2 separate regions of the Homo sapiens genome follow, and region 1 is linked to region 2. Evidence: fine-mapped expression QTL. A gene starts in region 2. The other region holds a variant in brackets. All regions are shown on one strand. Distances are from middle to middle. Region 1 holds the start of MIR575 (microRNA 575). Region 2 holds the start of SCD5 (stearoyl-CoA desaturase 5).

Evidence for each region. PIP is the estimated chance that this variant, and not a neighbour inherited with it, causes the effect.
Region 1: its variant is fine-mapped to the expression of SCD5 in spleen (GTEx, PIP above 0.99).

Annotation. Positions count from the first base shown.
Region 1 is chr4:82,750,312-82,758,311 of GRCh38, forward strand. The region is part of intron 1 of SCD5 (stearoyl-CoA desaturase 5); the gene reads right to left. It overlaps MIR575 (microRNA 575), which reads right to left and starts at 3,119; the gene lies at 3,026-3,119. The variant T/C (reference allele first, on the strand shown) is at 3,570.
Region 2 is chr4:82,794,541-82,811,087 of GRCh38, forward strand. SCD5 (stearoyl-CoA desaturase 5) reads right to left here and starts at 4,256. Exons shown (of 5, transcript NM_001037582.3): 1 at 3,766-4,256. The coding sequence starts at 3,997. RefSeq lists enhancers at 2,482-3,003, 3,980-4,697, 4,698-5,414 and silencers at 3,812-3,861, 4,192-4,611.

The DNA.
Region 1 (8,000 bases), 49 kb before region 2:
TCGACAGACTGAGAACAAGGAGGAGCTACCTACACCCTGCAGGAGTAACACAGGACCAAACACTATCTCCAAAACATCTGTGTAACAATTACTTCTTCACACATGCAAGAAGTAAAGGGAATAAAAAGACATTCAAAATTAGAAGCAAATAAGCACACTTTGTAAAGATTAAGAATGTAATGGTGACACTGACTGCAAGTGTCCACCCAGGCTAATAAAATTACTTGGAGAAAAAATGTTCTTCAAGATCCAGGGAAGCCATGGAGAGTCTTTTGAGTCCTCGAGAATATGGCTTTACTTTTGCCAGCCACAAGAGAGCTGCTTGTAGCAAAAAAAAAAAAAAGTCATGAAACCAAAAGGCAGTTCATTATGTCTGTTTAAAAGAAAGCACTGTTGGAGAAGAGGAAGCTCTGACGAAACGGTCTGCTAGGTGGACAGGTAGGGAGGACTCAGAAGTCCATTTTACAGGTAGTGAATCTCATGTTTAAGGCCAAAGTGAAGTTGTTTGCCAAGGGCTCTCTAGCACAGAGTTCCTCTAAACCTTGGGCAGCAAATGCCAAAGAACTTACCTTTCCCAGAGTTCCCCAACTAGTGAAACATTCAGCAAGTCAGCCCAGGCTAGGCTGGTTTCTTGGTTATATGCTCTTAGATCCGTGTTCCCTCCTCTCACAGCACTTACATATTAACCTCTGTGACTATGTCTTCCTCCCCAGTCTTCAAATTTCATGAGAACAAGGTCTGTTTTTGTTTTCCATGGTATCTTCAGGGCTTCACAAAGAGCTGTGTAAACCCATCATAAAGCATACAATAAGCCCATAATAAGTATCGGTGGAATAAATAAATGAGCAAAATCAACAAATGTGTGACACAGAACAGGAGTTTTTCATTTAACTTGTATTTTAGAGACAGAGTCTCACTCTGTCGCTCAGGCTGGAGTGCAGTGGCGTGATCATAGCTCACTGCAGCCTCTAACTCCTGGCCTCAAGCAATCCTCCCACATCAGCCTCCTTAGTAGCTAGGACTACAGGCATGCACCACCATACCCGGCTAAGAGAAGAGGAGTTTGAGGACTAACTACTTGCATTCGACATTCATGGGGACATTTACATTGGGCCTGCATATTGATATTGCTTAAAATATGTTCTTTATGTTTCACTAAATCTTTAAATCTCTTAGGACTGAGAAAAGCCAAATCCTATGTACATCAGTCAGGGAGGTAAGGTCCCTATATATGCTGTTTTAAAGTTATAAATGTCTGTTTCAGAGCACAAGGATTAATAACTTTAAAATCTTTTGAATCTTTTACTTTTATTTAGTTAGTTAGTTATTTTTTTGAGACGGAGTCTTGTTCTGTCACCAGGCTGGAGTGCACTGGTGCAATCTCCGCGCACTGCAACCTTTGACTCCCTGGTTCAAGCAATTCTCCTGCCTCAGCCTACCGAGTAGCTGGGATTACAGGCACGCGCCACTACGCCAAGCTGATTTTTGTATTTTTAGAAGAGATGGGGTTTCACCATGTTGGCCAGGCTGGTCTTGATCTCCTGACCTTGTGATCTGCCAGTTTCCGCCTCCCAAAGTGCTGGGATTACAGGCGTGAGCCACCACGCCCAGCCTCTTTTCTCTAGATTGGAAAATATCTTTGTTAGAAAAACATTCCTCTCCTTTAGACTACAAATTGGAAGAATTTCTAAAAATAGAACAGTGACAAAACCCTGGATTGTGGATTTTAGCAAGAAATACTGCCCTGTTAAAGACCTGCTTTAAAGCAAAAGAAATCCCCATAAGTCTGTGGGCAGGAGAATCACCATCACAAGGCCTGAAGTATTTAACTTTAGTTAAATATAATTTTAAACCAGGAAAATCTGCTCATGTATGGGAATTTGTAGTTCTATAAGGATTAGGGAAAACAGAAGGCAGAATACAAGCAATATCTCTCAAGGTTGACCTTGAATTTTAAAAAATTATATATATATATATATATGCAAAATCAGGCAAGATCTTGACACTCCAAAATGGTGTCTGTGGCTCTTAGTGAGGTGGAAGCACAGGGACGTGGGAATAGGTGGGAAGAAGAGAGTCTTTTAAAACCAGCCAGCTGAAATGTTCTTGTCAATAAAGGCATCATTTTACTTCTTCTACTAGGTTAGGATGATTTGAAGGCCTGCATAAACCAAAAGCTGTCACTATAATTCAAGGATAATTGGAACAAATGGCTGCTTAGCACCAGAAAGAGATGGGGCTGAGGAGATGGAATCTTCCAGCCTTTGGGTTGTTCCAGGGAGCATGATCTTCACCTTAAATCCCAGCTGAACAATATCTGTCCCTTTTCCTGTCCCCTCACCAAAACTGGACCTGGAGAAGCCTATGTATTTGTTTGCATGGAATCCTCGCCCTGTGAGCACACACACATCCACTCAGTTCTTTCACGCTTCTCTCTCTTCCCCATTCTTCACACACACAGCTACATCTGTTTCCCTTTTTCCCCCTAAATAAACTTACTCCAGTGTTGAAAATGGATACAAATTGAATCCTACCCACCAAATACTGCATCACATTTTCCCAAAAATGACATGACTTTACCCCAGTGATAAAAGGGAGGTCCTCTTTGCTACCATTAAAATATATCTTTTACTTAATTCCCTGCCCTCTCCTCACCAAGAAAACTCAGTAAGGAACTGCAGGGACCTTAAAGACCATCCAGACTTTGGCTGTGCAGAGTGTGTTCTGGGGACCCACACCATCAGTTTGCCCAGGAGCACATGGGAAGAGAAGAATCCCCAGCCCCACTGAAAACCACAGGACTGGAGTCTGCATTTTAGCAAGATCCTATGTGATTCCTGTGCACATTCCAGTTTGAGAGACATGTGTCTAGGGAGCATGTCTCACCTACTTCATGTGAGAGTTACCTGGGGAGCTTTTACAGCCACCCAAGCCTCACCTGAGACCAAATTAATCCACATTCTCTAGATGGCTATGTGTGTTAAAAGCTCCCTGGGGTGGGGGTGGGGGGTTCTGTGTATGGCCAGAGTTGAGTGGCACTGCTCCTGTCCAACTGGCTCATTGTGCAGACAGCCTGAGTAGCCCAAGGTCATGACATAAGCCAGTGGCAGGGCTGAATTTAAAGGCACAAAGCAGTGCGCCCCAGAGTCACGCGGGTGGACTCTGACAGTGATAGTGTCCATTTCCCACATCTGCCAGGAGTGTGGCTCTTTGTGGGCTGAGTCACCTGCGGGGAAGGGTTTCAGGTTAGAATGTTCATAGGGTGTCACCCAAATCACTGTTTTTAAGCCCTTCTCTACTCCCAAAGAAGTCATTTAATTTGGCCTGGAGGATAGCATCAAAAAACTATGTAACCAATGATATTTCTGCTTGACCTGCCAAATGTGTATTAAATGCATCCATATTTGCCTCCCCCCTCAGCCATCTTCCCCTTTTCCCCTGACTCCAGTTTATAGGAAAAGCAGCCAGCACATACCCCCCTGACAGAAGTCTATGAAAATCCAACTGAGAGGGATTAAAAGGCAGACAGGGCGTATTCCATTTCCTTGAGGCCCTGGGAAAATGTCACA[T/C]CCGAGGCTGAGCCAGTCCTGATGAGAAAGCCTCGTTGCTGCCAGCTGGGAGGGTTCAAGGTTTGCCAAGCACTGAAGACACTGTTTATGAAAAGCTTTAAATGTCAAGTACCCTGGCTCCTTAGGGTCCTCCCACAAGATAACGCAGTCTCTTGTCAAGCACAGACTCGCCCGAAAAATGAGACCTGAGAAAGGGGCAAGGCTGAGGCATCTGTTCAAAGACAAGCTTCTCAGAGGCCCTGGCTTCTTATGTGGAGGAAAACTTATCTCCCCGTTTTGCAGGAGTTAAGAAGGGCAAAAGAGAATGACAGTGCAGGGAGAGAAAGCGGGAAATCAGAAGAGAAAGGAGAAGGGAGAGAAGAAAGTGAGAGAATGCAGGAAGAGAGAAATGTGCAGATACTAAAAATAAATTCAAAGGCCCTGCTTTTCAACCTCCTCAGTTTTCATATCACAGAAAAGCAGCTAAATCTTCTGAGAAAGCTCAAATGCAAGGACTAAGAATGGGAAAGCAGAGAGAGGGAGGAGAAGTCCTTTCATCAAAATACTTAGGAATCTCAGTGCGTGGTCACTTGGCTGCCACAGGAGGGGTCTGGGTGGTCCTAAGAGGGAGAGGGACTCCTTCCAGGCTCCCCCCAGGACCCACCCTCCCCTCACCAGCAGCCCACCCTCCTAACCCGACAGGGAGGAAACCTGCTCAGTGCTGCTATTTACAATTTCCATTCAGGCAATCTTCACATTTTGGAATGGCATTTGCCAAGGGAGACGATCTCAGCTCCTCTTCTATTTTCAGGTTCCCTCTTGCATAGCGGATGGCATCAGTACTAAGCTCCAAGAAGCAATTTAGAAGAGTGGTTGCTGGAAAGTGGGGGAACCCATGCCAATCTACAGACCTGCAGAGCCTGGGGATGAAGCTTTTATTTTTAACACTGGGATCTGTGAGGCTGACCTATATTTCACTTCTTATATCGGCAGAAGTGACAAGCCTCGAAGGCCAGGGCACAGAGCTGAGCCTCAGGAGTCTGAGGCTTTGAACACTTCACTCAGAGGAACAGAAGCAACAAGACACCAAGCCCACCATGGACAGAGACAGCCGCTAAAACAGAAGGTGCCAAAGTGCCTAGGCTAAGGTTGCAGGGTGCACTCAGTAGACCAGATGGGAAGAACTTGATGTCAGTTTTACCTTCAGAACTTGGAAAGTCTATAGCCAGACCAAACTATGCAGCTAACAAGAAGATGGGGGGTGAGGATGGGGGTGGAGGTGGGCACAAATTGAAGGCCCAGGAAAGGAGAAAATGGGTAGGAGAATGTCGAAAAAATTAGGAGAGATGAAAGAAAGGGGCCAGGCATGGTGGCTCATGCCTGTAATCCCAGCACTTTGGGAGGCTGAGGCAGGCAGATCACCTGAGGCCAGGAGTTTGAGACCAGCCTGGCCAACATGGCAAAACCCAGTGTCTACTAAAAATACAAAAATTAACTAGGCATGGTGGCACACGCCTGTAATTCCAGCTACTTGGGAGGCTGAGGCAGGGGAATCATTTGAACCTGGGAGGCGGAGGTTGCAGTGAGCTGAGATCACACCACTGCACTCCAGCCTGGGCGACAGAGCAAGACTGTCTCAAAAAACAGAAAAGAAAGAAAGAAAGGGGTGGTGTAGATGTGGGGAGAGGGAATGTTAAATTTGCATATTTCAGTAGTGGAACCTGTCCAACACTTCAGAGTCCCTTGGTCAAACAGGCAGAAAAGAAGGCAGCATTAAACAATGCGCTCAAAAAGGATGGCTTAACACCATCAGATAATGTTTTTCAAAATACGTCTAGTCTCCACTATTATCATATTTCATATTTTATTTCTCCTACTCATTCTCAAAACCAAACCCTCTAAAGCATATTTGTCTGGCCAGCCTTATGATGACAAGTCTTCAAATGCATGATACCATGTTGAATTTAATTTTATGCCTGAAACACTAAAGGCTGGCACGGCTCCATTATCTTTTTGTCAAACCCTCACATTTTAATCTGCCATCCAGTCAGTGGACTGGAAACAGAGAAAAATCACTTCAGATTATGAAAAATTTTGACCCTGCACCACCAGAATTTGTTTAAATCAAATTGTCATCTAAATGGAAAGCAGTATAGTGATTTAGTGTTGGTGTAGAGGCCCTGTGGCTCAGTGACAAGAGGCTCCAGGAGGAAGGGCACAGCCTGAGATGCCTTCCTCCTCTGGGTGTCCACAGGCACATCACACTAAGCAGGTGTAATATGGAAACCAGCATCTCTCTCCACTCCCTTCTAGAATCATCAGTCAATGGCACCATCACCCACTCGGTCACCCAAGTAAAATTCCTGCTGGTGGCAGCAGTGGTGGGGATGGTGGGTCATCGAGACCCCCTCTCCTGCCCTCCTGGACCAGTCAGGACAGGCATGGCACAGTGATGATGAGAGCAGGCGCTGGAGTTAAACTACACGGCTGTGAGTCCCAGTTGGTTACTTGCTAGCCATGTGCCATTCAGCCAAGTCACTTAGCCTCTCTATGCCTCAACTTTCTTATCTATAAAACCTCTTTAGGCTGGGCAAGGTGGCTCACGCCTGTAATCCCAGCACTTTGGGAGGCTGAGGCAGGTGGATCACTTGAGGTCAGGAGTTCAAGACCAGCCTGGCCAACATGGTGAAACCCCATCTCTACTAAAAATACAAAATTAGCCAGGTGTGGTGGTGTGCACCTGTAATCCCAGTTACTCGGGAAGCTGAGGCAGCATTAGCTAAGACTGTTCCTCCCCCACCCCCCTCCCCCCGTCCATGCAATTATCAGGACCTGTCAAGTTCAAAGTCCTCTCCATTCCATGCTCTTTCCTACTTGTAGCCGCCCTCACCATCTCTCACTAGAACCAACACAACATCTCCCTCCTTGGTCTCCTTGTCTGTAGTCTTGCCCCCCTCAAATCCATCCTCCATAGAGCCACCCACACTGCATATCAAGACATGAAACCAAACTGTTGTTGTTGTTGAGAGAGGATCTCCCTCTGTCACCCAGGCTGGAGTGTTGTGGCGCAATCTTGGCTCACCACAGCCTCTGCCTCCTGGGCTCAAGTAATCCTCCCACCTTGACCTCTCAAAGTGCTGGGATTATAGGCGTGAGCCACTACATGTGATCCCACTCCCATTCTCAAAACCCTTCCATGGCACCTCACCTTCCACAGAGGGAAAACCCAAACTTCTTAGTGTGACACATAAGGAGCCTTCCCCACCCTCTCTCCATCCTCGCTTTCAGTCTCTCCTCTCCCATCTCCTTTCCCGTCACTCTCTGGTTACCCTGAGTTGCAATTCATCTCCATCCTGCTGTTGCAAAGTTCTATGCCTTTGTCTGTGTGGTTCTTCTGTGGAAAAGTCCTTTAGGTCTTGATCCAGTCATCATCTCCTTCAGATGGCTTCCCAGGACCCCGAACCCAGGAGGGCTCTTCACCCTGGGTTCCCATAGCCCTGTGCATTTCACACTCACCCAAACACAATGAGACCCTGTGGGCCTTAAGGGTGGGGCTCATCTCTTTAGACCCTCAGTACCTAGCATTCAATTCAACTGAATTGAATTGCCCCCGTGAGGGAGGTCTTTCTATTCGCATTTTACAGCTGAGGAAACCAAAATCCAGAGACGGGAATTATACTGCCTGAAGCCACACAGCTAGTAAGTGACTGCACTGGTATTCAAACCCAAATCTATTATTGTGGGTGAGGTGGTTAAGGACTCTGGAGTGAAAGTGCTGGGCACATATCCCGGCTCCCGCACTTACTGGCCATGTGACCTTGGTCAAATCACTTATCTTGTAGAGCCTCGTCTGCAAAATGGGGATGATTTTAGTACCTCCATCAGAGGTATTGTGAAGAATGAACAAAATAACATATGGTCCTTAGCTTTGTACCTGGAACATCCTAAGCCCTATATAAACTTCAGGAAAAGAGAGTCCTAACACATGAAAAATACCAACAGGATGCATTTTTTTAAAGTACAGCCACTGGCTTCAAACACTTTTGCAGTGCAGAATCCATTAACGGCTACGCCAAGATTATCTTGAAGATGATGTTCATTTGGCTGCTCTGGAGAAGTCAAAAAAGTAAACAACAGAAAACAGATCAGCTGGTGGGGTGATTGCACCCCATTTCCAAGAGACTGGGTTAGTGAGTGCATCTCTGTGAGGAATAAGTAGAAACAATCTGGAGGACTCTGGAGACGTTCAGAGGATGACAGTGAATCCAGAGCAAGCTGTTCACCTCCTGGGAGAGGGGGAGGCCCACAGAACACTACAACCAGTGGGGTGCAGTGTCTCACATCTGTAATCCCAACACTTTGGGAGGCCAAGATGGGAAGATCACTTGAGGCCAGGAGTTGAACACCAGACTGGGCAATATATCAAGATCCCTGTCTCTCCAAAAACAAAAA
Region 2 (16,547 bases):
AGGGCATTGACTAACTGTCCCTTTGGCCAGAAACTCTCAAGCAGGCATTTTTGTGAGCTCAAGCCTTCAGATGCAGGTTTTTCCTCTAGTTGGAGTTTGCATTCTGTCCATTTTTTTTTTTTTTTTTGAGACGGAGTCTCACTCTGTCGCCTAGGCTGGAGTGCAGTGGCGCAATCTCGGCTCCCTGCAAGCTCCACCTCCCAGGTTCACGCCATTCTCCTGCCTCAGCCTCCCGAGTAGCTGGGACTACAGGTGCCCACCACCACGCCCGGCTAATTTTTGTATTTTTTTTAGTAGAGATGGGGTTTCACCGTGTTAGCGAGGATGGTCTCGATCTCCTGACCTTGTGATCAGCCCGCCTCGGCCTCCCAAACTGCTGGGATTATAGGCGTGAGCCACCATGCCCGGCCGCTTTCTGTCCTTGAAAGTCATGAACGCATTGCTGAGGACCTGGGGGCACCAAGAGCATTCTGTCCTGACAGCCTGCCCACTCATAAAACGAAAAGGATAAAAAGGGAAAACAACATGCTCTGGCCCCAAGGAGAACTAACAACTTGATGAACTAACAATTTGATGGCTCTTTCACGGATGACATTTTACCACCACACAAATTACTCTCTGCACACTGCACATCCAACACATCCCCTGCTGGGTGCACTGCATAGATGCCTCTTGTTTCCAGCACAACCTCATCTGGTGTGGAGGGTGGCAAGCAATGGACAGGCTAAGCCTATTTCCTCTACAAGTCAGGTCCTTGAAGTGCATGAGCAGCCCACTGGGGCATGAACTTGGCCCTAATGCTACACATAACCAGTAGGGAGGTGGTGAAAAAGGGCCTTCAGTGGGGGGAAATTTGTGGATCAAGGCACCAGGGCTTTCACTGAAAATAACCCTGAGTCAGTGGTCTGCCTCGTCCCTCTGCTTACTATGTAGCCTAGCCATCAGCACAGCTGATCTTAGCTGGTCTCTGATTGTCCCTCATTTCTTCCCTCAAAAGCTATTCATGAGACTGGGTACAGTGGCTCACGCCTGTAATCCCAGTACTTTGGGAGGACTGCTTGAGCCCAGGAATTCAAGACCGGCCTGGGCAACATGGTGAGACCCCCATCTCTACAAAAAAATGAAAAAGAAAATAGCCAGGTGTGGTGGTGCACACCTGTAGTCCCAGCTACTTGGGAGGCTGCGGTGGGAGCATTGCTTGAGCCCAGGAGACTGAGACTGCAGTGAGCTATGATCGTGCCACTGCACTCCAGCAAGACCCTGTCTCACAAAAAAAAAAAAAAAAAAAAAAAAAAGCAGCAGAGGCAGTAGCTATTCATCAGATAAGACCCATTGTTTGGACTGTTTCTAAGTCACAATTTTGGACCTTAAAACTCTAATATCTACCATTGTCTGCTATTTTTTTTTTTAGGGAGGCAATGAAGGTGGGGAGAGAATTAAGACTTACGGGCCGGGCGCAGTGGCTCACGCCTGTAATTCCAGCAGTTTAGGAGGCTGAGGTGGGTGGATCACGAGGTCAGGAGATTGAGACCATCCTGGCTAACACGGTGAAACCCCATCTCTACTAAAAATACAAAAAATTAGCCGGGCGTGGTGGCGGGCACCTGTAATCCCAACTACTTGGGAGGCTGAAGCAGGAGAATGGTGTGAACCCAGGAGGCGGAGCTTGCGGTGAGCCGAGATCGCACCACTGCACTCCAGCCTGGGCGACAGAGCGAGACTCTGTCTCAAAAAAAAAAAAAAGACTTAGGAAATAGCAGATGAAGCACAGGCAGAATTTATCCAGGAAGGTATGGAATGGGGTTTGGGACATGAGTCACAAAGGGGAAACCAGATTCCTTCAGTGTGTTAACTTCTCTAAGGAAGCTAGAGGACACTGGGGCCTGGGAGGTGTCCTCTAAGCCAAGATCTTTCAGAACAAAGGTTCTATCTTCACCACAGAGAGCGGTCCGGAAAGGGCAGAGGTGACCTGGCAAACTTGGAGAGAGGGGCCTTGTCCTTGTGGCTCCTGGTCCAGTGCCAGGGTCTTGGGGCTCAGAGGCTGTAAGAAGTGGAGCCAGTGAGCCCTAGGCATGTAAGATAATATTTTAAGTGCTCACTTTTCCCTGAGCACTCTCTGAACACCACAGCTATTAAAGATAAGCCTCAATCCCCTAGAGGTCACCAGGCTCTGAGGACCAAGCCCAGCCCTGCCTCTGGAAGCAGGGGGGAGAGAGGAGCTTGTTGGAGAACTCTGGGCAATAAGGGCTTTGGTTGGCAGTGTCGGAGTGTGTTGATGAAGCAACAGCTGAACATCATACAGTCTACAGTCAGTTGGAGAATTAAACCAACACATAAAGGTGATGGTGAAAAGGACACAGAAATGAGGAGGTGCACTGAGAGAAGGAAAGATGAAGCAGGAGATTTCCCAGAGCTTTGGGGAGACTTTAAAGGCTTTAGGGATCCCCAAAGATCCTACCTCTCTCACCATCCGTCAACTCTGCTATGCCCTCCCTGAGCCACACCCCCTAAGAGGTACCCACTTCTGGATGGGTTTACTTCCAAGAGCAGGGACTGCAGGATTTCAAGGGAAGGCTTGGAACCATAGTGGCCCCATTATCTACCTAGGCATTTGCAGCTGGCACCATGCCAAAAAAGCCCTGTAGAAAGAGGTCTTATTTTCTTCCTTCCTCTTCCCCTCTGGAAATAAAAGTAGGTTGTGTTTCTCCTGCCCGCCCCTAGAGATCAGGGAAACGGGAGCTGGAAGGGCATCTTGGATTACCTCGTCAAATTCTCACTCAGCATATCAATGCCTGTGCCTTTTGTCCTGGCTACTGCCGCTTCAGTAAAGGAGGCCAAAACCAGTTATTGCGGCCAGGGCGGCTGCGAAGTGGTTCAAAGATCAACGACTGGGGTCGTGTAGGGTGGGCACGCAGTCCCTGGGGCCCAGGGGAAGGGGAATGGTGGTCGGCGCCCGGGCTCCCTTCCCTACTGGCAGGAGTGGGGGTGCACGGAAGGAGGGTACCAGGAGAGCCACAGGTTCCCACTGGCCACATGGGAACAGGGTTTGGAGAAGGCTCTGCACAGCCACAGTCGGAGCTTCGTGCTAGGGTCAGACCGCTCTCGCCATGGGATCGGTTTGCTCACCGAGAAACTTCACCGAGAACTGCAAATGGGCATAGAAGATTGCGGAGGGGGCAGGGACAGGGGCCTTGGAGAGGCAAGAGGGGAACCGGTATCTTCCATCTGGTGCGCGTAAACCAAGACTCTATCCTGTGCCGGGTCTCTCCTCCCCGGTCCAACTCCCTTACTTGTCCTCATCTCTGTCCCCAAGGTCCGTGACCCGCGGAGGTGATGGGGGGGATAGGAGAGCCCCAGGGACCGCAGAGGTGACACAATCGCCCGCCCGTCCTCCCTCGCTGGGAGCCGATTCAGCCTGTGCCGAGCCTCTCCCTTCGCGCGCCTCTGCGCACAGCGGTGGCACCGCAGGACTCCGGGTCCCCCCCGGCTCTCCATCGGGAAGCCGGCAAATGCGCTTCCTCAGGCAGACCGCGGCGGGGTGGGGGCGGGGGGGGGGCGGAAGTTGAAATACTGGGACAGAAACACCTGCCCGTCCCAAGGGACGGAAAACTGGATGCCAAGGGGGCCGCGGCGCGCAGCGGGAGGCGAGGGGAGACCGGGGGTCGCTGCGCACCGCCCGCAGCCGAGGGGCGAGCGGCGACCTCGCGCGCCCCAGCGCGGCCTGGCCACGGAGGCCGGGGCGCAGGGGGCGCCGGCGGGACTTACCCCAGAGCAGAGTGAGTGGCTTGGCTTTGGGGATGAGCACCAGGGAGTACACGGCCCCCAAGTGGAGCAAGCTCATCAGGACGACATTCCTCCAGACGATGTTCTGCCGCTGCCCGCGCGCGCCTGGCCTCTCCGGGCCGCCGCCGCCCTCAGAGCTTTCGAGCCCGGCACGGATTTCTTCCTTGGCGTCGCAGAAAGGGATCTTCCCCGCGTCGGTGGCCGGGCCTGGCATGGCTGGGCGAGGTGGGCGCCCGCAGCAGCGGCAGGCAGGCAGGCGCTCTGCCCGAGCGGAGCTCGAGGGTGGGGGCGGGGGCTTCTGCCTTTTAGGGGGGAATTCTCCGCACGTCCAGTCCCCTCCTTCCAGCCCTTCTCCCGGGCTCCTGCGCTCTTCCCCAGGGTCTTAGCGTGGCCTAGGGATGCAGATCTTGGCGGCCGGCGTCTGTTGCTGGCGTATCCCCCATATGGCTGCCCGGGCTGAACTCGGCCGCGAGAAAGAGGAGGCGCGCGCGGGGCGGGAGGGGCGCGCGGCCGGGGAGGAGGAGCTGTGAAAATGGAACGGGGCCGGCGACGCTGGAGGGAGCGCTCCGAAGGAGCGCGGAAGAAAGCCCTGCTTAGCTACAGCCAATCAGGAGCGCCCGTGCGGCGCTTATAGACAAAGGCGCCCCCCTTTCGGCTTTTCGGGGCCGAACTGGGGAGCCCGCTGGGCGGGAGTTGGCCGCCTCCGCCCGGGGGCGGGTGGAAGGTGGCTCCCGGGGCAGGGAGCCTGCAGGGCGGCTCACAGCGCTTCTGCTCTTGTGTGTGTGTGACCCCCAAAATGCCTTTTATGGTATTTTTCCAGTCCCCCCCCCAAAAAAAAACTTCCCGAAACTGTCATCCCTTTGAGAAGCCTTTTATTTCTTCTCAAGCCTCAGGCCACCTGGGTTGGAGAATTTTAAATACTTGCTTGGAGTCGCGACCCTAGTTAAGGCCAGACCCACGATGAGAATCAGAAGTCCCTCAATCTGCCAGTTAGTAGGGCTCCTCGGGCCAGGGGAGGGTTGGAAGGCAGCTGCTCGTTCTTAATTAGGCAGCTGTGGATTACCCAGGCACACAGTAAGTGCTCAGTTGGTGCTTGTGAGGTGATGCACAGATGATTTGGGCCAGTTCGCTGCCCACCCTTTGCCCATCCGCCGCGCCACTCTGTTTATGGTCAATTCTAGCTAATCAGCGCACTTCTGCAACGCCTCCTTAGCTCTCAGTGAGGAACACTACCCTGAAATCAACACCATTGAGAATCGGGCTTTACAAAAAAATCACCCAGAATGTTCCAAGGAAAATTAACCTGTGAAAGATTTGTGTCTGCCCACTTCTCTCCTAGAGCTGATGGCTTAAGAGCTCTCCAGAGAGGACCCTAGTTGCACAGAAAATGGAGGGAGGATTGAGCTGGAAGTGTCTGAAGCAGGTGTGACCGCAATTGCGGGCAGGCAGCAGAAGTAAAAGGGCTCGGGACAGCATCTCTGAGTTCTAGTTTTAACTGGCTGGAACCCAGCCCAACTCTCTGGGCACGGATTTCCTTACCTGAGAAGCAGAACTAGTTTCTACTCTTCCTTCCAGCTTCCATATTCCATGAATGTGAGTTCGAAGGGGCGCCATTATATTGACCAAAACCAGCTGATTTTTAGATTAACCGTTGTTAGGAATCATTTCCAGGATTTCAAGAGAGGCAAAAAAATTTAAAAGACTGACTGCATGAAAGGGCCATGCATAAGCATCTTATTGTTAGCAGACCTGAGCCAGTCCTAGCAGCCAGACAAAACAATGCCTGATTTAAGCTAAAGCAAGGTATGTGGCACTTGTGGAATCTAGGCCACTGAGTCAGTGTTACTGTGTTGCTTCAGACGGAGCTGAAATTATAGAATTTGCCTGGAGACCAGATAAATGTCGGCCCTATATAATGACCAGTCAGACAGTGGAACATGAAGCTGGAGGGTGCGATTTTCATCTGTCTGTTCAACCTGGGCTATGTAATGAACCACGTTTTCTTCTCATGCTCCCTCTGCTCCCCATACCCAGCAGACCTTCCTACTCCCTGTGGCTCTCTAGTTCAGACTGTCCTTTCTCTCTGGGGTAGACTAGTTGCTCGGCCAAAAGCCTCTCTCCGGGTTATTGGAAAGGCTCAATGCTGTAAAGACCCTCATTCTAAACATTCAGTCATTTATTTGGCATTTATTGGGCATCTGCTATGTGCCAGGACCAGTGGGCACAGGGGATCCAAGGATGAATAAAGTCTGGTCCCGCCCCTAAAGGAGCTCCCATCTAGAAGCAAAGATGGAGCAAACAAATGTAACCTCTTGACTATGACCTTGGAAGGGCAGAAAGTTACAGTCCATTATCGGAAAAAAAAATTTAATTAGGTATCAAACTTACATACAAGGAGTCTAAGGGAAGCAAAAATAGTTCCTTATTGTCCCCCCTGAGAACCTTATTAGGTCAGCTGTTCTATCTTGAATCCATCTTTTGTTTGTTTGTTTGTTTTTGTTTTTGAGACGGAGTCTCGCTCTGTTGCCCAGGCTGGTGTGCAGAGGCCTGATCTCGGCTCACTGCAAGATCTGCCTCCCGGGTTCACGCCATTCTCCTGCCTCAGCCTCCCGAGTAGCTGGGACTACAGGTGCCCGCCACCACGCCCGGCTATTTTTTTTTTTTTTTTTTTTTTTGTATTTTTAGTAGAGACGGGGGTTTCACTGCGTTAGCCAGGATGGTCTCGATCTCCTGACCTTGTGATCCGCCAGCCTTGGCCTCCCAAAGTGGTGGGATTGCAGGCGTGAGCCACTGTGCCCGGCCCTTGAATCCATCTTGAATGAACATCTTTCTCTTTTCCCTCCTGTGGGTCAGACCAGGTATGACCAGTCATTTCAGCTGGCTGTCCTCATAATGGAGAAGATGTTTTTGTGTGTTGAGGGAGGAAAGAAGTGTTACTTAGGTTTGTCAGAGCCTGCCTATAAAAGGATTGTTGAAGAAAAATGGTCCTTCCAGGTCCAGCCTCAGAGTGAAACATCTACAAGATCCAAGATATATTCTTGCTGATAACGACGGTCCTCTTTAGCCAATTATGCCATAGGGGTCACTGCCTCTTTTCTCTGTCTTGCCAAAGACCCTAGTATATTTTCCTAGCTTCTAGTCAGGACCCCAGGAGTGGATAAGTATTCACCTGTCCCAGGATGGGGCAAATGGGACAGTAACCCTTATCCTGTCAAACACGTAATTACCAAAAATGTAATAAGAGCCATAATGGTGGTATACGCAAGATAATGTAGAGGTGCAAAGGAGGGAGTTGTTAATTCACACAGAAGCAGGGAGGAGGGGGAGTGATACCTGGGGAAGGATTTTTAAAAAATATTTAATTGTGGTAAAATACATGTAACATAAAATGTATGTAACAAAATTTACCACTGTAACCGTTTTTAAATGTACAGTTCAGTAGTGTTAACTATATATGCACATTACTGTGCAACCGATCTGCAGAACTTTATCATTTTGCAAAACTGAAACTTTATGCTCATTAAACTCCCCTTTCAATCTCCATCCAGATGCTGGCAACCACTGTGCTACTTTGTTTCAATTAGTTTGACTACTCTAGATACATCATATAAGTGAAATAATAGAGGATTTGTCTTTCTGTGACTGGCTTATTTCACTTAGAATGTTTTCAAAGCTCATCCAGGTTGTATGTGTTAGAATTCCCTTCCTTTTAAGACTGAATAATATTCTATTGTATGGATATGAATTTTGTTTATCCATTCATCTATCTAACAGTGGACATTTGGGTTGCGCCACCTTTTGGCTACTGGAAATAATGTTGCTGGGAACATGGGTGTACAAAGATCTCTTCAGGACCTGCTTTCAATTCTTTTCGGTATATATATGTATATCCAGAAGTGGTATTGCTGGATCTTATGGTAATTCTATGTTTAATTTTTTGAGGAACTGTCATACTGTTTTCCATAGTGGCTGCACCATTTCATATTTCCAACAACAGTGCCCAGCGGTTCCAATTTCTCCAAATCCCCACTGATACTTTTTCTGTTTTTTAGATAATAGCCATCCTAGTGGGTAAGGAGTGATATCTCATGGTAGTTTTTATTGCCCTCCCTTAATAATTAGTGATATTGAGCATCTTTTCAAGTGCTTGTTGGTCATTTGTATACCCTCTTTGGAGAAAGATCTATTCAAGTCCTCTATTTTTAAATAAGGTTTTTGTTGTTGTGGTTGTTGAGTTGTAGGAGTTCTTTACATATTCTGAATATTAACCTATCAGATATATGACTTGCAAATATTTTCTTCCATTCTGTAGGTTTCCTTTTTCACTCTGTTGATTGTGTTCTTTGATGCACTGACATTTTAAATTTTGATGTAGTCCAGTTTATCTATTTTTACTTATATTGTCTGTGCTTGTGCTTTTGGTGTCGTATCCAATAAATCATTGCCAAATCCAGTGTCATGAAGCTTTTCCTCTATATTTTCTTTTAAGAGTTTTATAGTTTTAGCTATAAAACTTACATTTAGGTCTTTAATATACTTCGAGTTAATTTTTGTGTATTGTAGAAGATAAATGCCCAGTTTCATTCTTTTATGTGTAGATATCCAGTCTTCCTAGCACCATTTGTTGAAGAAACTATCCTTTCCCCATTGAATGGTCTTGGCTCCCCTGTTGAAGATCAGTTGACCGTATATATGAGAGTTTTTTTTTTTTTTTCGGCTATTTCACTCCATTGGTCTGTATGTCTGTCTTTATGCCAGTACCACATTGTTTGAATTATTGTAGCTTTGAAATCAGGAAGTTTTGAAATCAGGAAGTTTGAGACCTCCAACTTTGTTCTCTTTTTTTTTTTTTTTTTTTCAAGATTGTTTTGGCTATTCAGGGCTTACTGAGATTCCATACCAGTTTTAGGATCTTTTTAGGTCTGCCAAAAATGATATTGAGATTTTGATAGGGATTGCAGTAAACCTGTATATAACTTTAATTAGTATTTTCATGTTAATGATATTAAGTCTTCCAATCCATGAACATGGCATGTCTTTTCACTTATTTATGTCTTCCTTAATTTCTCAGCAGCATTTTGTAGTTTTCAGTGTACAGTTATTTTGCCTCATTGGTTAAGTTTACTGGGTAAGGATTTTGAAAGATTGTTGTTTAATTAAAATATATCATGAGCCTCAAATTCAAGCCACATGTGTAATTGTAATGTAGCCACATTAAAAAGGTAGAAACAGAAAAAAACTTTAATAATATATTTTATTTAACTCAATGTATCCAAAATATTATCTTTTCAATGTAAAATCAGTATAAAATTATTGATACATTTTATACTTTTTTCATACTATGTCTCAAAATTCCATGTTTCCACTTAACAACACGACACACCTTAATTCAGATTAACGACAAGTGCTTGTAGCCACATATGGCTAATGGCTGTCATGTAAGACAGCACTGTTGAAGTATGAATAGTTCAAAGAAATGGTAGGGGATATTCCAGGCAGAGAAAAGTGCGTAAGTAAAGTTTTTGCACTTGGCATTCAGGGAGGTATATGGAATATCTGAAGTGAAAGTAGGGAAGCGTAGGAGATGAAGCTGAAATGCCATGCAGTGGGCAGCAGATGAGGGTACGTGGGTGTCTTGAGTGCCGTGCAGACAGAGCTATGAGGTAGGTGAGGGGAGCCACAGAAAGACTTTATGTAGCACAGTACTGGGATCAAGTTTGCACTGCAGAAAGACCACTCTGGAAGAGAGTGGGGAATGATTGTATTGGGGGTGCAGAGAGCTAAGATTGAAGGTGTGAAGATCAGTTAGGACACTATTTTAAGAATCTGTTGAGCAATGATGAGGGCCTGAATTAAGGCAAGGGCACAGATTCTGGAGAACAATAAATAGAGAAGATGGAATCAAGCCAGAGAAACTCAAATGGAAGAGTCAAAGAGATTTGATGCTGGATTAAACATAAAGAAGGAGGAAGAAAAATCTAGATTCTTTTTGGGTCTCTGAACTGGGTATTCAGGTGAAGGACAATGTCACTCACTGAAATACTAAGTTTGTGTTTATTTCCTCTCTTGTAAAGTGAGAATAATACCTACCTTATAGTATTCCTGTGACAACTAAAGTCAATATCCATAAAGTGATTAGAACAGTGCCTGGCACATAGTAAGGAATTAGTAAATATTATCACCATAATCATAATCATTTTTGAGATAGGAACTGAAGAAATAAATTAAAGAAGAAAATGAATTCCTGTTTTAGACATTCAAGTGAAACTTTGGGTGGATTTTTGAATATATAGGTGCCTGGAGCTTGGCAAAAAGTCTAGGCTGAAAATAACAATTTAGTCATGGTTCAATATAGTAAAATCCATGTCAGTAGAAACAGTTGGCCAGGAAAGGTAAGAAGAGAAAAGGGCTCAGGATAGAATCCTAGTGAAACACTATTTATGAACACAGCAAAGAAAAAGAAGCCAGTGGTGTGAACTGAGAAGGGAAAATGAGAGAAGTGGAAGAATCAGCAGAGTGTGGGAGAGCAGGATTCGCAATGTCGAAAATGTTATGGAAAGGCCAGGAAAGAAGGGAAATGAAGAGCACACTGTATACAAAGGTCATGGCTGACATTTGCTGAGGACTTTTCAACGAGTGATGGGAACAGACCTTGCACAGAGGTGACTTTAAGAACAAGAGGGAGGAGACAAGCATGGAACGCATATGTAAGTTAATTTTCCTAGATGCTTGGCAGTAAAGAGGAGAGGGATAGAGAAGCAAAGTTGAGTGTGTGCTTTCTAGGGCTGGATGGGATCAGGTGAGCAGATGGTTGGGCTAACTTAGAGCAGAGGGACAGCTTTTCATTGGAGACTGGAAGGAAATGAGGATGAAGGGAGCTTACAGAGTGGGCCAATAAAGTAAGGGAGGGTGCCATGATGGCCTGTTTGCTCTGAAGGGAAGATCAGGTGTCTGCTGGACAAGCAGAGTGGGAATTTGGTAAAGAGTTGGGAAAAAGTGATGAAGGCCTCCAAAAGCTGTTGAGAAAAATGAGAGAGGAAGCTGATCAAGAACATTTAAAAGGTTGCCTGGCCTAATTAAGGGCCCAACTAAGAATGGTTGCCACAAGCTTAAACTGGCTTAGTCTGCACAGTTGTGGTTACACAGCATCCCTCAGCAGTCTGATGGAATATCCATATTGAAGTTGTAGGGTGGGTTTGATGGGAGGACAAAGGATCCAGGTACTTGAGGAAATATGACTAGAAGGAAGCTAAGATGTTATAGACAGTGGAGGAATCAAGGGAACCAAGGTTTTGAAGAAATTGAAGAGAAAATCTGTTTATTAGGGAATGAAAATAAATGAAGTAATGGCCATTATGCCCCAAGAGTGGGATCTGGGACTTGAGACCTATGGTTGTGAAAGAGTTTCCAACGATAAGCTCCAAGGTGAGGCCACAGGATTATAGTGGAGGGTTGGCAGTTCCTGGAAATGAGGAAGATGAAGTATTATGGACAGGACCTCCAAAGGGGGTTGAAATCACAGGCTGCATCCAGATTTAGCTGGAGAAGATTGTGAGCTGGGTGCCCAAGGGGACTTCCTAAAGAAAGACAAGTAACAGCTTTCAAATGTCAATGAACAGTTAGAAGATTCTAAATACAAAACTAGCAGCTCTGAGATGTATGAGGACAAGACCATCACAGCCAGAATTCCTGGATTCTGGCCAGCAGTGCATACCTTGGAGTAGAAGTTGCTTCTGGTAGAGAGGATAGAAAGAAGACAGAAAGTATTATATGTTAATGCTACCTACAAAAACTGTGTGTGAGAGAGAAACATGATGAGGCATGTGGTCTGGTATGATCAGGAGGGCTTCGTGGAGGAGGTGGCAGCAAACAAGGCCCTGGAAGATAGGTGACTTTGCAGAGACTCCCACTTGGATAATAGCCTAAGAATAGGCTTAGATATGGGGGTGAGCCTAGCAAAACACCTAGCACTTAGATAAGGTTGTATTTTGGCCAGGCACAGTGGCTCACACCTGTAATCCCAGCACTTTGGAAGGCCAAGGTGGGTGGATCACTTGAGCCCAAGACTTTTAGATTAGCCCGGGCAACATGGCAAAATCCTGTCTCTACAAGAAATACAAAAAATTAGCTGGGTGTGGTGGCATGCACCTGTAATCCCAGCTACTTGGGAGGCTGAGGTGGGAGGATCACCTGAGCCTGGGAGGTCAAGGCTGCAGTGAGTCATGATTGTACCACTGCACTCCAGCCTGGGTGATAGAGCAAGAACCTGTGGAGAAAATGCAGGCTTTAGGGAGGGAGGAAAGAGCAAGAAAAGATCCATTCTTGAAGTTAAAAATTTACAATGATTCTCAGATCTATGCATTTCTCAAAAAAATGCAGATTTTGTCTACAGGACAAAATCACAATCTTGTGAAAATGACCTAGGTTTGGCAGTCTAAAACCTGGGTTTGCAGGTACATGGATTGGAAGAATCAATACTGTTAAAATGTCCATACTGGCCGGGCGCGGTGGCTCATGCCTGTAATCCCAGCACTTTGGGAGGCCGAGGCAGGTGGATCACGAGGTCAGGAGATTGAGACCATCCTGGCTAACACGGTGAAACCCCGTCTCTACTAAAAATACAAAAAATTAGCCAGGCGGGGTGGCAGGCGCCTGTAGTTCCAGCTACTCAGGAGGCTGAGGCAGGAGAATGGCTCAGGAACCCGGGAGGCGGAGCTTGCAGTGAGCCGAGATTGCGCCACTGCACTCCAGCCTGGGCGACAGAGCGAGACTCCGTCTCAAAAAAAAAAAAAAAAAAAAAAAAGTCCATACTACCCAAAGCAATCTACAGGTTCAATGCAATCCTCATCAAAATACCAATGACATTCTTCACAGAAATAGAAAAGACAGTCCTAAAAATGTACATGAAACCACAAAAGGCACAGAAAAGCCAAAGCTATCCTGAGCAAAAAGAATAAAACTGGAGGAATCACATTACTTGATTTACAGAGCCATAGTAACCAACACAGCATGACACTGGCATAAAAACAGACACATAGTCCAATGGAACAGAATAGAGAACCCAGAAACAAATCTATATATCTACAGTGAACTCATTTTCGACAAAGGTGCCAAAGGCATACATTAGAAAAAGGACAGTCTCTTCAGTAAATGGTGCTGGGAAAACTGGATATCCATATGCAGAAGAACAAAACTAGACCCCTATCTCTCACTATATAAAAAATCAAAATGGATTACAGACTTAAATCTAAGACTTTAGACTATCAAAGTACTACAAGAAAACATTGGGAGAAACTCTGCAGGACATTGGACTGGACAAAGACTTCTTTTTTTTTTTTTTTTTTTTGAGATGGAGTTTCACTCTTGTCACCCAGGCTGGAGTGCAATGGCACAATCTTGGCTTACTGTAACCTCTGCATCCTGGGTTCAAGCGATTCTCCTGCCTCAGCCTCCTGACTAGCTGGGATTACAGGTGTGCTCCACCACACCTGACTAATTTTGTATTTTTAGTAGGGTCCAGGGTTTCACCATGTTGACCAGGCTGGTCTCAAACTCCTGACCTCAGGTGATCTGCCCACCTTGGCCTCCCAAAGTGCTGGGATTACAGGCGTGAGCCACTGTACCCAGCCAGATTTCTTGAGTAATATCCCACAAGCACAGGCAACCAAAGCAAAAGTGGACAAATGGGATCACATCAAGTTAAAAAGCTTCTGCACAGCATAGGAAACAGCCAATAAAGTGAATATGGAACCCACAGAATGGGAGAAAATATTTGCAAACTACCCATCTGGCAAGTGATTAATAACCAAAATATATAAGAAGCTCAAACTCCACAGGAAAAAAATACTGATTTTAAAATGGGCAAAAGATCTGAACAGACATTTCTCAAAAGAAGACAAACAAATGACCAACAGGTATATGATACAATGCTGAACATTATCATCAGAGAAATGCAAATCAAACCTACAATGACATATTATTTCACCTCGGTTAAAATGGCTTTTATCCAAAAGACAGACAATAACAAATACTGGTAAGGATATGGAGAAAAGAGAACCCTCATACACTGTTGGTGGAAATGGAAATTATTAATAATATCATTGAGGACTCTGAGTAAAAGGTATAATTTCTCTATGATTTCTTATAACTGTATATGAATAAATAATTACTTCAAAATTAATAGTTTAATTAAAAATGTGAAGTGGTTGAAGCATTGCATTCAAGGTTTATTCACCCATTCATTCATAGAATATTCCAGAAATATTTATTGTATATATGTTTATAAGTATGCTTATATAATATAAATATATAAAATATAAAATATAAATATATTTATATGACCCAGCAATCTCACTGCTAGGTACATACCCAAAAGAAAGGAAATCAGTACATGGAAGAGGTATCTGTACTCCCATGTTTATTGCAGCACAATTTAGAAGCAACCTAAGTGTCCATCAACAGATGAATGGATAAAGAAAATGTGGTACATACACTCAATGGAGTACTAGTCAGCCATAAAAAAGAATGGGATCCTGTCCTTTGCAACAACATGAATGGAACTTGAGGTCATTATGTTAAATGAAATAAGCCAGGCACAGAAAGGCAACCTTTACATGTTGTCATGTATTTGTGGGAGCTAAAAATTAAAATGACTGAACTCATGGAGATAGAAAGTAGGACAATGGCTACCAGGGAAGGGAAGCATAGTTGGGAAAGATAGTGTGGCAGGGGAGAAAGGGGGATGGTTAATGGGTACAAAAATATAGTTAGATAGAATGAATAAAATATAGTATTTGGCCGGGCGCAGTGGCTCATGCCTGTAATCCCAGCACTTTGGGAGGCCAAGGCGGGTGGATCACCAGGTCAGGAGTTCAAGACCAGCCTGGCCAAGATGGTGAAACCCCATCTCTACTAAAAATACAAAAAAATTAGCCAGGCATGGAGGCGAGCAACTGTAATCCCAGCTACTCGGGAGGCTGAGGCAGAGAATTGCTTGAACCCAGGAGGCGGAGGTTGCAGTGAGCCAAGATCACACCACTACACTCCAGCCTGGCTGACAGAGCGAGACTCCGTCTCAAAAAAAAAAAAAAAAAAAAAATATATATATATATATATGTATAGTATTTGATTGCACAGCAAGGTGACTACAGTCAATAATAATTTATTGTACATTTAAAAATAACTAAAGGAGTATAACTGGATTGTTTGTAACACAAAGAACGATAAATGCTTGAGGTAATGGACACCCCATTTACCCCAATGTGATTATTATGCATTGCATGCCTGTATCAGAATATCTCATGTACCCCATAAACATGTATACCCACTATGTACCCACAAAAATTAAAAATTAACAATAAAAAAAAGACCTGGGTTGAAGTCTGGCCCTCCCACTCTGAATTGGCACATCCAAGTACTGTGTGATTTGGGGACAATGAGTCTCTTTCAGATCTTCAGTTTCATCCTATATATTATGGGAATTAAGACAGATCTATGCTGGTAATCCTCTCCAGGCAAAGTGCCAAATAATCTCAACATCAGTATTTTATGTGCAAAATGGAGATAATACCACACATTTCACAGGAATAGAACTTTGTAGAGTTTGGTACCTAAATTAGTGTGAACCACTTATTTTATTACTATTTTTTTAATCATTCTAGACAGATGGACTGAATGCAGTTGTAATAACCTGCCTGGCCAGAAAGCCAGGATGCTCCTGGGGGTCCCAGACTGTGAAGAGAGGCATAACTGGGTAGGCTACAGGGATTCAGACCTTGAAGGAATGAATTCTAGCAGGGCCAGGATTGGCGTGCTTTGAAGGGAACTGTGAAAAAAAATCATCTGCTTTGGTTTTTCAGAGGTAATCATTAAAGGCAACTCCTTTGGCACAAAAAAGGAATCAGCTCTGCGGCTCTTATGAATTTAAAGGCGAAGGAGGTTGCCTCTTGGCTAAGGGACATGAAGAACAGCTTCAAGTTTAAACAATCTTTGTGCTCACAGTGTGAGATAATCACTCACAGGCTTTACATTAGAATGATTCCAGTGAAGCATAATGTTGGAAAGTTAGCCTTCAAGGTTACAGGAAGATGGGTTTTGAGATACAGCAACACCACGGCTTAGAAGAAAATCAGTCCTCTCTGCTTCCTCCAGTCCCAGGAGGGTTGGTGTCTCTCTTTCTGTACTAAATAGATTGGAAAAATTCCGCACTGAGAATTTATATAGCAGTGGATGATGGGAGACCTGGTCCTCTAAAATGAATGCTTCTATTGCTTTAGATGAGAAAAAGAGTGAAGGGTTTTCCTTTAACAAAGACCCTTATTGCTTAAGACCCTTCCAACATTTCCTGATGACTTTTTTTTTTTTTTTTTTTTTTTTGAGACAGAGTCTCACTCTGTCACCAGGCTGGAGTGCAGTGGTGCGATCTCGGCTCACTGCAACCTCCGCCTCCTGGGTTCAAGCGATTCTCCTGCCTCAGCCTCCCCAGTAGCTGGGACTGCAGGCGTGCGCCAGTACGCCCAGCTAATTTTTTTTTGAGACAGTTTCGCTCTTGTTGCCCAGGTTGGAGTGCAATGGCGTGATCTCGGCTCACCGCAACCTCTGCCTCCCAGTTTCAAGCGATTCTCCTGCCTCAGCTTCCCGAGTAGCTGGGATTACAGGCATGTGCCACCACACCCGGCTAATTTTGTATTTTTAGTAGAGTCGGGGTTTCTCCATGTTGGTTAGGCTGGTCTTGAACTCGTGACCTCAGGTGATCTACTGGCCTC